Linked DNA regions of Homo sapiens: region 1 is linked to region 2. A link means that fine-mapping ties the variant in region 2 to the expression of a gene that starts in the linked region. Tissue or cell type: esophagus mucosa. Region 2 holds a variant in brackets; the other region holds the start of a gene. All regions are shown on one strand. Distances are between the middles of the regions.

What was found. PIP is the estimated chance that this variant, and not a neighbour inherited with it, causes the effect.
Region 1: it holds the start of PEX6, and the variant in region 2 is fine-mapped to the expression of PEX6 in esophagus mucosa (GTEx, PIP 0.99).

The regions. Positions count from the first base shown.
Region 1 is chr6:42,974,367-42,982,469 of GRCh38, reverse strand. It overlaps PEX6 (peroxisomal biogenesis factor 6), which reads left to right and starts at 3,289. Exons shown (of 17, transcript NM_000287.4): 1 at 3,289-4,201; 2 at 7,432-7,595. The coding sequence starts at 3,320. LOC124900215 (a long non-coding RNA gene) reads left to right here. Exons shown (of 2, transcript XR_007059580.1): 2 at 1,627-1,928. RefSeq lists silencers at 1,030-1,248, 2,487-2,683, 3,338-3,717 and enhancers at 2,878-2,927, 3,088-4,029.
Region 2 is chr6:42,928,604-42,936,706 of GRCh38, reverse strand. It overlaps CNPY3 (canopy FGF signaling regulator 3), which reads right to left and starts at 7,227. Exons shown (of 6, transcript NM_006586.5): 1 at 6,986-7,227; 2 at 2,109-2,232; 3 at 1,037-1,133. The coding sequence starts at 7,136. It overlaps CNPY3-GNMT (CNPY3-GNMT readthrough), which reads right to left and starts at 7,227. Exons shown (of 5, transcript NR_134892.2): 1 at 6,986-7,227. RefSeq lists enhancers at 6,509-6,618, 6,929-7,188, 6,831-7,332, 7,639-7,688, 7,699-7,748 and 1 more. The variant G/A (reference allele first, on the strand shown) is at 4,869.

The DNA of each region.
Region 1 (8,103 bases), 46 kb before region 2:
GTGGCTCACGCCTGTAATCCCAGCACTTTGGGAGACTGAGGAGGGCGGATCACCTGAGGTCAGGAGTTCAGGACCAGCCTGGCCAACATGGCAAAACCCCGTCTCTACAAAAATACAAAAATTAGCCAGGCATGACGGTGGGTGCCTGTAATCCCAGCTACTCAGGAGGCTGAGGCAGGATAATCCATTGAACCCGGGAGGTGGAGTTTGCAGTGAGCCGAGATCGCACCATTGCATTCCAGCCTGGGCGACAGGGCAAGACTCCATCTGAAAAAAAAAAAAAAAAACACAAAACCTGTGTCCCTTACCCAGGTACCCAGGAGAGCAATGTTACAAGACAGTGGCCGTGGGGATGGAGAAGAGAGGATGGAGCATGAAAATGTGTAGAATCAACAGGATATGGTGATTCATTGTATTGTGGGGGGGACGGTAACGGAAAGGGAAGAGTTGAGGATGATTTCTGGAAGTGATCAGAGTTGTAGGAGGACAACTGGTGTCATAATGGCAAAGGAAATAAAAGACAATTGGTCAGTAGTGTCAGAGAAAGAACAGCATCATCTTGATTCTGCAATTAGAAGATTATGGGTGATTTTTTCAGAGAGTGGAAGACCGTTTTTAGTGAGTGGAAGAGTGAGCATCAAGAGGTGAGGAAGTGAAGATGGCAAATGTAGGGTCCTGGCGATCTTACAGAAGTAGTATTTGGCTTTCGGTGACTAATGACGATTTCAGGGTAACACAAAGTGGACTACATGCCCGCTGTTACCTGCTGGGAGAAAAGCTTGGGAGAAAAGGACATTTATTTGTGGGTGGGTATTTGTGTCTGTATGAGTGCTGATCCAGGCAAGATAACTGATGTTTTTACCCATCTCCAAGGCCTCAAGGAGCACTATAGTCCTGAGGCCTAGAGCTTGCCTGCTACTGAGGAAAGCAGGCATATCCTCTTTAGGCCCATGTACCATCTATCTAGCCCTTGGTTCCTCTGGGACATAGGGGACCAAGAAACATATAGTAGCACTACCAAATGGGAACTTTCATCCATGTGAATCTAGGTACCTAGAACATTCTTTATTTAGTTTTTTTTTCTTTTAATTTTATATATTTTAAGAGACAAGGTCTTGCTCTGTCACCCACTTGGAGTGCAGTGGCACAATCATAGCCTCAAATTCCTGGGTTCAAGTGATCCTTCTGCCTCAGCCTCCCCATAGCTGGGATTATAGACACAAGCCATGGTTCCTGGTTAGTACATTCTTGCATGCTATTTTATTTATTTTTTTCTATTATTTATTTTTTTGAGACGGAATCTCACTCTGTCACCCAGGCTGGAGTGCAGTGGCGCAGTCTCGGCTCACTGCAAGCTCTGTCTCCCGGCTTCACGCCATTCTCCTGCCTCAGCCTCCCGAGTAGCTGGGACTACAGGCACACACCACCATACCCAGCTAATTTTTGTATTTTTAGTAGAGACGGGGTTTCACCATGTTGGCCAGGCTGGTCTCAAACTCCTGGCCTCAAGCAGTCCACCCACTTGGCCTCCCAAAGTGCTGGGATTACAGCCATGAGCCACTGCGCCCAGCCCCTTATAATATGCAAATCTAATAGTTTTCATATATTTGTCTTTCAAATTTTCAGGAATGTATAATGTACAAAATAGAAGACTGCCTCAAGAAGAAAGGAGAGATGGAGAAAGCTGAGCAGTAGCTGAAAGAGAATGTAAGGTCTAGAAAATGGAGATTGGCACCATCCAATTCATTTATTGTAAGTGAAAATAATTGTTAATAATTGGAAATGCAGTGGGACATGATGGCTTATGCCTGTAGTCCCAGCACTTTGGGAGGCTGAGGCCTGAGGATCTCTTCAGACCAGGAGTTTGAGACCAGCCTAGGCAACACAGAGAAACTCTGTCTCTACAAAAAATAAAAAATTAGTCCAGGCGCAGTGGCTCATGCCTGTAATCCCAGCACTTTGGGAGGCGTAAGCAGGTGGCTCACTTGAAGCCAGGAGTTCGAGACCAGCCTGACCAACAGGGTGAAACCCCGTCTCTACTGAAAATACAACATTAGCTGGGTGTGGTGGCACACACCTGTAATCTCAGCTACTTGGGAGGCTGGGGCAGGAGATTCTTTGAACCTGGGAAGCGGAGATTGCAGTGAGCTGAGATCGTGCCATTGCACTCTGGCCTGGGCAACAAGACCGAAACTCCGTCTCAAAAAAAAAATTGGCTGGGTATGGTGGCGTGTGCCTGTGGTCCCGGCTACAGTTACTCGGGAGGCTGAGGTGGGAGATCACTTGAGCCTGGGACGGTAGAAGCTGCAATGAATGGGGATCGTGCCACTGTACTCCAACCTGGGTGACAGAGTAGGACCCTGTTGCCATAAAAAAGGAAATGTGGCCTACCACTAGCTGAGTGTCTTGTACAGAACAGTGGAGGTGAAGAGAAGGATGGAATCTAAATAACAGCACACGCAGGAAGTCGACTGTTGGTGTTATGCTGACAGAAGCCTTGAACTCCTTTCCTTCTGCCTGCTCTGCTGCCTGCCCCGCTCTAGGATAGAAAGTGAATGGGTTTCCGATCTGCAAGGATTTGGGGGGGGGGGGTGAAAGAAAAGCTGTTTTGTCTTCAACTTAAGTTTGGTGGGAGTAAAACAAACAGAACAATGAACAGGGCAAGAAGTCCTGGAACATGGGTTTTGTGCCAGATGTGCTGGAACATGTGTGGTGGCACCAAGCACTCCAGGGCTGTATGAATCACATCTAGTAATTCACTCAGCAGCCACTATATACCTATAAGCAAGTGTGAGACAGTTTTCTAATCCTGCTACTCCCTCCTGCAACCTTTCCTGCAACCCTCAAACCTCAGTGCTCACAGTTCCACAGGGGAAGCTGCAGGAGCTCCGCAGAGGAGCGGACTCCTTCCGAAACATTTCACCTAGAGCTCCCAGTACTGGGCCCAGTCATCCCGAGCATGCTGACTGTTCATTTATCAGTCAATAAACTGTTACGTTCATGCCACGGGGAAAAATAGTTAAGAGAACATTACTTCCGTAGAAGGCAAAGATAAATCCCTTAAGCACAAGTTCAAATGGCGCATGGGTAAACGCTACGCAACCGCAGCGATGAAGGTTACTGCCTATCGAGGCACGACGCAGATCAATCCGAGGCGCAGCTAACCCCCTCAGAGCAAGTTCGCGGCACCCGACCCCCCTCCCCTTTTCCTCTGGCCTCCCCTGACGGAAGCGGAAGCGGCCCTCGCGCACACTAGTCGTCTGGCTCTCTGGCTCCGGAAGCTGCGCTCCTTCACCCTCCTCGTTGGTGTCCTGTCACCATGGCGCTGGCTGTCTTGCGGGTCCTGGAGCCCTTTCCGACCGAGACACCCCCGTTGGCAGTGCTGCTGCCACCCGGGGGCCCGTGGCCGGCGGCGGAGCTGGGCCTGGTGCTGGCCCTGAGGCCTGCAGGGGAGAGCCCGGCAGGGCCGGCGCTGCTGGTGGCAGCCCTGGAGGGGCCGGACGCGGGCACCGAAGAGCAGGGTCCCGGGCCGCCGCAGCTACTGGTTAGCCGCGCGCTGCTGCGGCTCCTGGCACTGGGCTCCGGGGCCTGGGTGCGGGCGCGGGCGGTGCGGCGGCCCCCGGCGCTAGGTTGGGCACTGCTTGGCACCTCGCTGGGGCCTGGGCTCGGACCGCGAGTCGGGCCGCTGCTGGTGAGGCGCGGAGAGACCCTCCCAGTGCCCGGACCGCGGGTGCTGGAGACGCGGCCGGCGTTGCAAGGGCTGCTGGGCCCAGGGACTCGGCTGGCTGTGACTGAGCTCCGCGGGCGGGCCAGACTGTGTCCAGAGTCTGGGGACAGCAGTCGGCCCCCACCCCCGCCCGTGGTGTCCTCCTTTGCGGTTTCTGGCACAGTGCGGCGACTCCAGGGAGTTCTGGGAGGGACTGGAGATTCACTAGGGGTGAGCCGGAGCTGTCTCCGTGGCCTTGGCCTCTTCCAGGGCGAATGGGTGTGGGTGGCCCAGGCCAGAGAGTCATCGAACACTTCACAGCCGCACTTGGCTAGGGTGCAGGTCCTAGAACCTCGCTGGGACCTCTCTGATAGACTGGGACCCGGCTCTGGACCGCTGGGAGAGCCCCTCGCTGACGGACTGGCGCTTGTCCCTGCCACTTTGGCTTTTAATCTTGGCTGTGACCCCCTGGAAATGGGAGAGCTCAGAATTCAGGTAGGATAAAGGACTGGGGTCAGGAGTGCTTCCTCTTTCTTATACCCTCTTCTCTGTCTTAGGTAAATTGGAAGATTTAGGACTCGTGCCCCATATCATCCCGGACTTTGAACATAATGTTTCTAGCCGGGCGCGGTGACTCACGCCTGTAATCCCAGCACTTTGGGAGGCCGAGGCGAGCGGATCACTTGGGGTCGGGAGTTCGAGACCAGCCTGACCAACATGGAGAAACCCCGTCTCTACTAAAAAAATGTAAAATTAGCCGGGCGTGGTGGTGCATGCCTCTAATCCCAGCTACTTGGGAGGCTGAAGCAGGAGAATCGCTTGAACCTGGGAGGCGGAGGTTGCGGTGAGCCAAGATCGCGCCATTGGACTCCAGCCTGGGCGATAAGAGTGAAACTCTGTCTCAAAAAAAAAAAAAAAAAAGCATAATGTTTCTTAGCCTCATTTATCTATTTTCTTTTTCTTTCTTTCCTTTTTTTTTTTTTTTTTTTTTTTTTGAGATGGGGTCTTGCTCTGTCACCCAGGCTGGAATGTGGTGATGCGATCTCGGCTTACTGCAACCTCCGCCTCCCAGGTTCAAGCGATTCTCCTGTCTCAGCCTCCTACTACTGGCTCGCGCCACGACGCCCGGCTAATTTTTGTAATTTTTAGTAGAGACGGGGTTTCACCGTATTGGTCAGGCTGGTCTCGAACTCCTGACCTCAGGTGATCCACCCAAAGTGTTGGGATTACAGGCGTGAGCCACCTCACCCGGCCTATTGATCCATATTCTGTAATCAAAATATCATAAGCCTCCATAATGTAGTGGGGCATACAAAAGGCTTTCATCCATTCAGGTGAAAGGTGAAGTTTGGGTGTGGTGGTGCATGCCTGTAATCCCAGCTACTTGGGAGGCTGAGGCAGGAGAATTGTTTGAACCTGGGAGGTGGAGGTTGCAGTGAGCCCAGATCACACCACTGCACTCCAGCCTGGACGACAGAGCGAAATTCTGTGTAAAAAAAAAAAAAAAAAAAAGTGAGGTTTCAGATGTGTATGTTAATCTACTCAATCTAATTAGTTTATTGAATTGCTACAATGTATTCAGTATTGTGCTTTATAATATGGAGGATGATGTCTCTGTGCTTTTGCTCATTCTTATCCTTGACTTCAAATTGTTTCCTATTATTCTAGCCTCATCTGTTAAAATCCTACCCTCCTTTCCCTCAAGAGCCATCTAAAGATGACACCTTTATCACAAAGCCTTTCATGATCTCACAGCCACGAATTTAGAACTTCCTCCTATAGCATTTTCTATCTTTTTTATGGCATTTATTTTATTCTATCTTGTTATGATTACATAATCTGTTTAATCCCCAATTATATATTGTAAATACCTTGAAGGAAAGGAGTCTTTATTATCTTTGGTGCCTGGTGTTTAGTTTTAATATTTTATTAAATACATCCAAGGAAAGTTTTTGGTTTCTGCCTTTACTTCAAGAAGAAAGTTGTAGAACAGATAATAGTTGTTCCATTTCCATGGGTTACTGAGTAAAGACTCACCAGTTCGCCATAACAGACATAAGAGTGACAAAAAAATAAACCTTCATTGTGTAAAAAAAAAAAAGGCCAGGCGCAGTGGCTCATGCCTGTAATCCCAGCACTTTGGGAGGCTGAGCCAGGCAGATCACTTGAGGTCAGGAGTTCGAGACCAGCCTGGCCTACATGGTGAAACCTCATCTCTACTAAAAATACAAAAATCAGCCCAGTATGGTGGTGCACACCAGTAAACCCAACAACTGGGGAGGCTGAAGCAGGAGAATCGCTTGAACCTGGGAGGTGGCAGTTGCAGTGAACCCAGATCACACCACTGCACTCCAACCTGGGTGACAGAGCAAGATTCTGTCTCAAAAAAAGAAAAAAATGAAAGTTGTGTTTAGGGGGACAAATACAGTATAGTGTTTAATTAAGGACCTAGATATATGGTTTAGATGGTGCTGTCCAATATGGAAGCCACCAGCCACTTTGTGGCTTTTTAAATTTTTAAATTTAGTTAAAACTAAATAAAGTAAGCCTGGCTAACATGGCGAAACCCCATCTCTATTTTAAAAAATACAAAAATTAAATCCCAGCACTTTGGGAGGCCAAGGCAGGCAGATCACAAGGTCAGGAGATTGAGACCATCCTGGCTAACACGGTGAAACCCCGTCTCTACTAAAAATACAAAAAAAAAAAAAATTAGGTGTGGTGGCACATGCCTGTCGTCCCAGCTACTCTGGAGGCTGAGGCAGGAGAATCCCTTGAACCCAGGAGGCGGAGCTTGCAGTGAGCCGAGATGGTGCCACTGCACTCCAGCCTGGGTGACAAGCGAGACTCCATCTCAAGAAAAAAATAAAACCCACAAAAATTAGCCAGGCATGGTGGTGCACATGCCTATAGTCCCAGCTACTCAGGAGGCTGAGGCACAAAGAGAATCATTTGAACCCAGGAGGAAGAGGTTGCAATGAGCCGAGACTGTGCCACTGCACTTCATCATGGGCGACAAAGTGAGACTAAGTCTCAAAAAAAAAAAAAAAACTAAATCATGTTTTTTAGTTGCTTTAGCTACATTTCTTTGTTTTTGTTTTGTTTTTAGCCACATTTCAAGTGCTCAATAGCACATGCAGATATAGACTATTCCATTGTAGAGAGTTCTACTGGGCAGTACTAGAGTAACCAGTTAATACTTTGGGATGTCAGGTAGAGATACATGTGAAATACATGTGAAAGGGAGTGGATGTAGGTTTCCTCCTGAATGGAGGAAAAACTACTGGGGTACTCAAGAGTAGAGCTCATTGAACCAACCAATGACTGAACCAACCCGTTCAGCTTTTCCCACAGCCTGAATTCAGTTTCCCCACTAATGACCACTTAATGTTAATCCCTGTGGATGCCTGGTGTCACTAATAGGTCTTGTGGGAATAAATGTCTTTACCATTTCACTGGCTCTGGGCCAAGTTGAAAGTGTCACAGAAAGGTTATCTTTACTGAGAAAATTTTTTGGAGCCAGAGTCGGGATAGGAGGTGATATTCTCTTCCTGGTACCCATTAGAGGGAGAGGTTTTCAGGTCTGCTACCTCAGGCCCCACCTTCCACAAGCCTTGTGGTTATGGGAAAGACAGGATGGAAATAGACATGTTGGCTGCTGAGAGACAGGTTAGAGCCTGCCCCCTTAGGAGAAGGTTATAACGTGGTGGTTATTTCTCTAATAGAGGTACTTGGAAGGCTCCATCGCCCCTGAAGACAAAGGAAGCTGCTCATTGCTGCCTGGGCCTCCATTTGCCAGAGAGTTACACATCGAAATTGTGTCTTCTCCCCACTACAGCACTAATGGAAATTATGACGGTGTTCTTTACCGGCACTTTCAGATACCCAGGTTAGCTACCTAACCTTTTAAGGAGGATAGCTTCTCACCCTCATTACATTCCTCCTATCCCATGCCTTAGAACCAAGTACCCCAGAGGCCCTGGTTAAAAGAAGCCACATTTGCGGCTAGGTGCTGTGGCTCACGTCTGTAATCCCAGCACTTTGGGAGGCCGAGGTGGGCGGATCATGAGGTCAGGAGATTGAGAGCATCCTGGCTAACATGGTGAAACCCCGTCTCTACTAAAAATACAAAAAAAAAATTAGCCGAGTGTGGTGGTGGGCGCCTGTAGTCCCAGCTACTTGGGAGGCTGAGGCAGGAGAATGGCGTGAACCCGGGAGGTGGAGCTTGCAGTGAGCCGAGATCGCACCACTGCACTCTAGCCTGGGCGACAGAGCGAGACTCCGTCTCAAAAAAAAAAAAAAAAAAAAAAAACAAAAAAAACATTTCAGACAGATTGTGGTAGGCGCCTCTTGGTATATCAGGGAGACCACAGAAGAGAAATCTGAACCATGAGGTT
Region 2 (8,103 bases):
AAAATTAGTCGGGCGTGGTGGTCGGTGCCTGTAATCCCAGCTACTCAGGAGGCTGAGGTGGGAGAATAGCTTCAATCTGGAAGGTGGAGGTTGCAATGAACTGAGATCGCACCACTGCGCTCCAGCTTGGGCAACAGAGTGTGAGACTCTGTCTCCAAAACAAACAAACACACAAAAACCTTGAAAATCAATTGAATTCAGTTCCTAAAGAGCCTCCCCATGCTTCGTTTCCAGCCGCATACTAGTCCACCAAACGGCTGGATCAACGTATTTAATCCCCTATTGGTAGAGTTAGATTGTTTCTCATTTTTTTCCTGCTATGAAAAATAATTCTTAAACACTTTTTATTAAAGCAAACACAGATTTATTACTGAGTGCAAAATTCATACAAATTTCTGCTGCTTGAGACTATTCCCTTAGGTATCCCAGGAGTTTATGAATGGTATCCTTTGCTAGAAGGAAACTTAGGTAGAAAAATGTGGGTGGCAACTATCTTACCCTGTGCCAGGCACTGAAGATGTAGAGAGTAAGAACTATGGGCCTTGTTGTAAGCAGCTCATTCTCCAGAGAGAAAAGCACTCGTACACATACTGAGTACATGGGCCATCACAAGGGCATCCCAGCGGGGTTGTGGGAGGTGCTGTGTGGACCCAGAGATGGGACTGGGCAGTCACTCCCACCGAGGTGTCCTCTGACACCTCGCCTAAACCCCCACCTTTCTGCACATCGTGGATCTTGCTGAGTTCTCCCCGTTCTAGTGTCTTTAGGTTCCCACGGGGGCAGCAACTGTGGAGCATTTCTGCCTGTGTCTGAGATTGAAGCAGGACCCTCATGAACAGGCCCAGACCCTCATGCATGTGCCTGAAAAATGAGGCCACTCAAGAGGGGAGGAGCACAAACGGCAATCAAAGAATGGGAAGAGGCAATGAAGGAAGATCCCAGGTGGTCATCTTCAAATCACACTCACACCAGCAGACACACTAAGATACATGCAGGCCTGACCCCAGAGCGGATGAAGGACAATCCCGAATCCAACCTTGGCAAATCGATTGCTGCCGGTCCTCTCCTTGTGCAGGCTATAATCCAGGAGCCTCTTGCAAATGGTCTCAGTGACTTCGATTAACCGCAAGTCCCTGCCAAGACAGGAGGATGAGGAACTGAGTTCCCCTCCTAGCCGCAGTGGGTTAGTGGTCTGTCCCTCCAGCCCTGTGCCCCAACACCTGCACATCTCACCAATGGGAAGTGACTCAGAGCTGGAAGGAAGATAGGTCATCTGGTCTGGGGGATCTGAAATGCTGGAACACAGACCAGAGAGACAAAATTTTAACAGCTCTAAGGGAAGGAATTTTTTATAAAGCTAAATGATTCAGTATTTAGATTTTTTGATAAAGCAAAATTATTAAATTTTGATAGTAAAATATCATTCTCTTTGAAAGGATGATCACAGCTGACAGAATTGGGTTTTTAAAAACTATATTTGTACCTAGCAAAATAAAAAGCTGGTAATCCTGTTACTAATGTTTTAAAAAATTGCACTGTGGCCGGGTGTGGTGGCTCACACCTGTAATCCCAGCACTTTGGGAGGCCGAGGCAGGCGGATCATCTCAGGTCAGGAGTTCGAGACCAGCCTAACCAACATGGTGAAACTCCATCTCTACTAAAAAAATACAGAAAATTAGCTGGGCGTGATGGCACATGCCTGTAATCCCAGCTACTTGGGAGGCTGAGGCAGGAAAATCTCTTGAACCCGGGAGGCAGAGGTTGCAGTGAGCAAAGATCATGCCATTGCACTCCAGCCTGGGCAACAAGAGTGAAACTCCGTCGCAAAAAAAAACTTGCATTGCTCTGTGAAATCCAAGCGTCTGAGAATCAATGATATAGTCCAACAGTCTTGCTTTTAGAGATGAGAAATCTGCTGAAGCATAAAGAAGTTAAGAGATTTATGCACGTCACCCAATTAGCTGGGGACAGAATCAGTGGGCAAACTCAGGTCTTGGTTACAAATGATGCCCTTGTAGGGGGTTTGCCTAGCTAGGAGAAGGGAACTCCAAACCCCTGAAGCCTCCAGCAGCAACGCAGGCCAGGCCAGTGAGTCCCCATTCACTTACGACTTGGTGTATTTGACTCCAGAGGCCTTCTGGTCCAGGATGCCATAGCCCGTGCCAATCACCTCCTTGGTCTTGCCGGTTTCCTCAAAGGCTGACTTCAGCTCCACAGCAACATATTTACACACTGGGGGAGGGAGGTAGCACAGCCCACTGAGTGCACATGAGTCTAATGGGAGGCCAGCTCCCAGCAAAACAGATCCAGGTGGGCATCCTTTCCTAGACTGGAGGACCAAAATCAGCACTCAAGGCAGGGAAGGAGTTAGAACCTGTGGAGGCTAAAGCAACTCCATCTTGGATGCTAATGTGCCATGTTGACTTCTGATTAACCCCAGTTTCAGGAATGCCTCTAGGATTTCTATTTTATCTACTGTTTCTTGTGTAAGAGCATGTACTTACTGTAAATCCTGCCCTTAAGCAATTGTTCTTCGTATTCCTTTTTTTTTTTTGAGATGGAGTTTCGCTCTTGTTGCCCAGGCTAGAGTACAATGATGAGATCTCAGCTCCTGGGTTCAAGCGATTCTCCTGCCTCAGCCTCCCAAGTAGCTGGGATTACAGGCATGCACCACCATGCACGGCTAATTCTGTATTTTTAGTAGAGACAGGTTTCATCTTGTTGGGTAGGCTGGTCTTGAACTCCTGACCTCAAGCGATCCGCCCACCTCGGCCTCACAAAGTGCTGGGATTACAGGCGTGAGCCACCACGCCAGGGTCTATCATTTTACTTTCTAAAATTGCATACATACAGAAAAGCTGAAAGAACACAATGAATACCTTCCACTTGTATTCAACAGTTGTTAATAGTTTGCCACATTCTCTCTTCAATATATAATTATAATATCTCAACAATATATACATTTCTTTTGCTACACCATCTTGAAAGTAAGTGGCAAACATGACCTTTTGAGATAAATATATCATCATGTATCTCCTGAGAAAAAAGACCTCCTCCTACATAACCATAGAACAATTATGATACTTGGAAAATTAACAATTCCAACATCACCCAGTAGTCCATATTCAAATTTCCTTAATTGTCCCCAAAACATCTTTTATGGTTGTTAGATTACTTGATTTCATATGTGTTCCAACATCAGCTCTATTTCTACCAAGTTAATTTGCTCCATGCCCTCCAGAGAGCTCTTGTTCCTACTGTCTCCGCACATTTATTTCCTCATTTCCTCTTACCCTTCCTCAAATAGGTATTAGGCAACTCCTACGTGTCAGCCTGGGGATACAGAGATGAAAACAAGGTCCCCTCCCTTCCAGATACTCAGTCTAATGCAGCAGATAAAGGTGTAGACAAATAACTACCACTGTATAGAGTGCTACAGTGCTACCACCGAGGGTGTGAAGTGCCTGAGGCCCTAGGAAAATACTTAATGCCTTCTAAGGGCTTCTCTGCCCATCCTGCCCACCTCGCATTATAAGCCTCTCCCCCAGGAAGCCATTCTGCACTAATGCCAATTGCTCTAGATTTCACTCTGGGCCTCTGCAGGATCCATGCTCTCCCTAAGGACCCTCAGTCATTTGATGTGTCTCTCCACATAGACCACAAGGGTCCCCAAAATGTGCATTATGTATTAGATTTTTTCGTATTTCCTTAGCCTGGGACTTGATATATGCTGGACGCTCGATAAATCTTGTTGATAGAGACCGTCTTCTGATGCCTCTGAATGGAATACCAGTCTGAAGGCTAAATGCCATCAGCAGTTTTAACACTGACAGCACAGTCTGCTAGAATACCAATTTACCACAAAAATAAATACATCCCCTGGAGGCCTGCTTGGTGAAATTAATCAATGGCTTGGAGAATTTGAAACACATACAAATTCCAAGTAATAAGCTGGTGATCTTCAAGTCTGCAATGAACTGGGGATGTCTCACCTCCCCAGCTCTCCATCCAGGACCATCTGGGCTCCCTCCCCTCTTCTGTCCTGTACTCTGTGCAGGCACATCATTTTTCTAGCACCACTTGCCCCTCCTCCCACGCCCTCCCCAGGAGTGGGGAAAGGGGAGGTTTGGAACATCCTTTCTCTCTCATACCCATCAACCACAGCCTTGCTTTCCAGCTCTTCCAAACATTACCTCTTCAAGACCTCCTCTGCGGATCCCACCCAGAACCAGACTCACAGGAGATTCACGGCACAGACACCAGACCCTCACTGACATCCACCCACTCTTTTTTTCCGGGCAGGTTCTCCTTCCTCTGTGCCGAGGCCTGTTCCACTCAGGCTACTGAGCCAGGAGGCAGGCTTGGTGGGCTAGACACAGTCAGCATTTAATAACAAAGGTGTAATAATAATACAAACAAATATACTATTAAGATGAACCTAACGGTTGGAGTTTGCCAAGCCATCCTGTGACTGCAAATCCCTTTTCAATTAATCTTCATCAGTTACCAAATGAGGGTAGACTAGAATGATCTCTAGATATAGAGATATAGAGATCCTGGGCATCTCTATGCTTCCGTGAGTCTGTGAATGTTGCCTAAGGAGAATAAATGTGAGCTCCTTAGGCTATGAGAATAATAAGAGGGAGAGTATGGGCTCTTTGATATCAGAATAAGACAGAATACAGGCTGGGCACGGAGGCTCATGCCTGTAATCCCAGCAATTTGGAAGGCTGAGGTGGGAGGATCACCTGAGGTCAGGAGTTCAAGACCAACCTGGCCAACATGGTGAAACCCAGTCTCTACAAAAATACAAAAATTACCCGGGCATGATGGCAGGTGCCTGTAATCCCAGCTATTCAGGAGGTTGA[G/A]GCAGGAGAATCACTTGAACCCTGGAGGCAGAGGTTGCAGTGAGCCGAGGTTGTGCCATTGCACTCCAGCCTGGGCAACAGAGCAAGACTCCGTCTCAAAAAAAAATAATAATAATAATAATAAGACAGAAAAGAAAGAGAAGAGGAAGCGAAACGCTGAAAGGCTATCAGTTAGCTGGGCTGGGTGCAGTGGCTCACGCCTGTAATCCCAGCACTTTGGGAGGCTAAGGTGGGTGGATCACCCGAGTTCAGGAGTTCAAGACCAGCCTGGCCAACATGGTGAAAACCCGTCTCTACTAAAAATAGCCGGGAGTGGTGGCACACACCTGTAGTCCCACCTACTCGGGAGGCTGAGGTAGAAGAATCCTTGAACCTGGGGGACGGAGGTTGCAGCGAGTCAAGGTCGCACCACTGCACTCCAGACTGGGCAGAGCAAGACTCCGTCTCAAAAAAAAAAAAAAGGCCAGGCACGGTGGCTCATGCCTGTAATCCCAATACTTTGTAAGGCCGAGGAGGGTGGGTCACTGGAGGTTGCGGTGAGCCAAGATCGCGCCACTGCATTCCAGCCTGGGCAATAAGAGCGAAACTCCATCTCAAAAAAAAAAAAAAAAGCTATCAGGACTAGAGGAAGAGCGAAAAGTGAAAGGGCGGCCAGGAGCAGAGGCTCACGCCTATAAGCCCAGCACTGTGGGAGCCCAAGGCAGGTGGATCACTTGAGGTCAGGAGTTCAAGACCAGCCTGACCAATATGATGAAATCCCATCTCTACTAAAAACACAAAAATTAGCTGGGCATGGTGGCATGCGCCTGTAATCCCAGCTACTCAGGAGGCTGAGACAGGAAAATCGTTTGAACCTAGGAGGCAGAGGTTGCAATAAGCCGAGATCTCGCCACTGCACTCCAGCCTGGGCAACAGAGCCAGACAGTCTCATAAAAAAAAAAAAGGAAAAAAAGAAAAGAATGTACGGGGGAAGGCACAGGCTTGAACTCATACTGGGTGCCCTACCAGTGAAGTCGGCTTATCTCTAAAGCATCCTTTTAATCTCTCTAATGGAAGGATTATGTGTCCGAAACTTACCCCAAACCCACTTTCCAGTGTTTAGGGAACATCTGGCCTGATGTAGGCTTTCAATTCAGATGAGAGATTCACAGCCAACTTTCTGGGGGCCCTGGGGTTACGGGGCTAGGAAGGCAGGCATGACTGTAAGGTCTGAGGAGAAAACTAAGGGACGGAGTTGAGGAAAAAGAAATAGGTCCTTTATAGTCCTGGCTCGCTGGTAGCTCCCTCTCTCTCTCTCTCTGTAGTTCCTCAACGCCTATGTCTTTGGGACTCACCTTTTCTCCAAAGTCCTAAAATCTTCTTTCAAGTTCCCCATAGGCTCTATTGTTCCCCCAAAGGGCTCCTCAGATCCAGATCCTCCTCCTCACACACACCCACAGTCTCCCATTTAATCATCTGTATTCTCAAAACATTTATTGAGTGCCTACCAGACACTGTGTGAATACGTATCTAAGACAAAAATTCCTGCCTTCGAGGAGTTGTTAGTGGGTGCAACAGACAACTACACAGATTGGGTTGCAGTGAGGGCAAAAGGGGAAAGTCTTAGGTTTTTTTCCCCCAAGATGAGTCATCTGGAGCTTTTCAGTTCCTCAAACTCGTTCTTAGCTTCTCAGCCGGCAGGCCTCTGCCTCTGTAGTTTCCTGAGTGGGCCCCTCTCTTTCCACTTCTCTTCATCCGGCTAACTCCTAATGCCTCTTCGTGCTTCCTGTATGAAGCCCTCTTTGACTCCCCTCTGCACACAGCCTTCGCCCACCCCCTCCCCCACTCCAGGCTAGACCAGATGCTCCTCGTCCGGCCCCCAAAAGGAAGCTCTGTACCTCCCCTATCATGGCATCTACTACTCTGAATTATCATTGCTTGTTTCTACCAATGTGTGAACTCCAGGGGTACCGGGACCAGATCTCTCGTCCGCCGCAGCGTCCCGGCGCAAGCCTGTTCAAGGAAGGAAGACACCCTGCAGAGCTCGGAACCTTGCAACCCCCGACGCTGCTCCGCAAGCACCACCGCTGGAGCCAGCCCCTCCGGCAGGATACGCCCCACGGGCCCCGCCTCCTCACCTTCGCATTTGCTGGGCAGGCGAACCCAGTCGTTCTCCTCAGCTCCGGCCTGGCTCGGGCCCAGCTCCGGGGCCGGCAGCAGCAGCAGCAGCAGCAGCAGCAAGGGAAGAAGCAGAAGACAGCGGGACGCGGGCTCAGGCATTGAATCCATGGCCCGGCCGGGCCCGGACCCTAAAGGACCGGGCGGTTCCTCCTCCCGCGGCGCGCGCGGAGCAGTTTCCCCTCGCCGCTTCCGGGACTGCACACGTGCCTCCGAGCAACCACGACAACAGCTAGCCTCCCGCCCGCCCTCCTCTCGCAGCCGCAGCCCGCCTTCAAAGCGGACCAAGGCCCGCGGACGGCGCAGCCAATAGGCTTTCTGGGGTTTGCTCTCTAGCTAATGGGAAGACTATCTTTTTACGCCCTTGGCCAGTAAGAGAGCAGATGGTGGCCTCAGCGACCTATGGCAAAGTCCTTTCCCACCCCCTAACGGAGGCTCTGGGAGAGAGAGGATGCAGGACCAAGACCCGAGAAGAAGCCTGCGTCTGGGCCTGGGTGGGACGGATTCAGGCGCGCAGGTGCTGGAAGATGTGGGGAAGGCCGTCTTCGCGGCTTTCTCCGCCTCCTCGAACGTCACTTCCCTCCTGGGGTCCTAATGCCGCAAGTCCTTACTGAACATCTGTTTTTAAATTTTATTATTGGTATTGTGGTTGTTATAGCCGGGCACTCTTGTAGGCGCTTAAGGTGCAAGCAGGACGACTCAAACTGTCCCCAGCCTTCACACTTTTTTAGTAGCCAGTAGATTTGTCCTAGTGAGAACTAGAACAAATGACTTCCTCTCTGAGCCTGTTTCTATTTGTATGACGACAAAGTGATCCTCCTAGCTGCTGTGGGAGCTTGCCTGTTGTTGGGAAGCTCAAATAGGTTAATAGAATTAAAGCTTATCGAGCAGATTGTAAAAAGTTCAGGCATTAATTTTCTTTTTGTATGTAATCCCAGCCCCTTTTACTGCCCTATTATTTATTTCTTGATTCTGAGCTCTCAGAAGGCAGAAATTTAGCCGATTAACGATTGTCTCTCCCTTCCGCTTCCCCAGCAACAACAGGGTGCCTGGCACAAGGAGATACTCAGTAAAACTC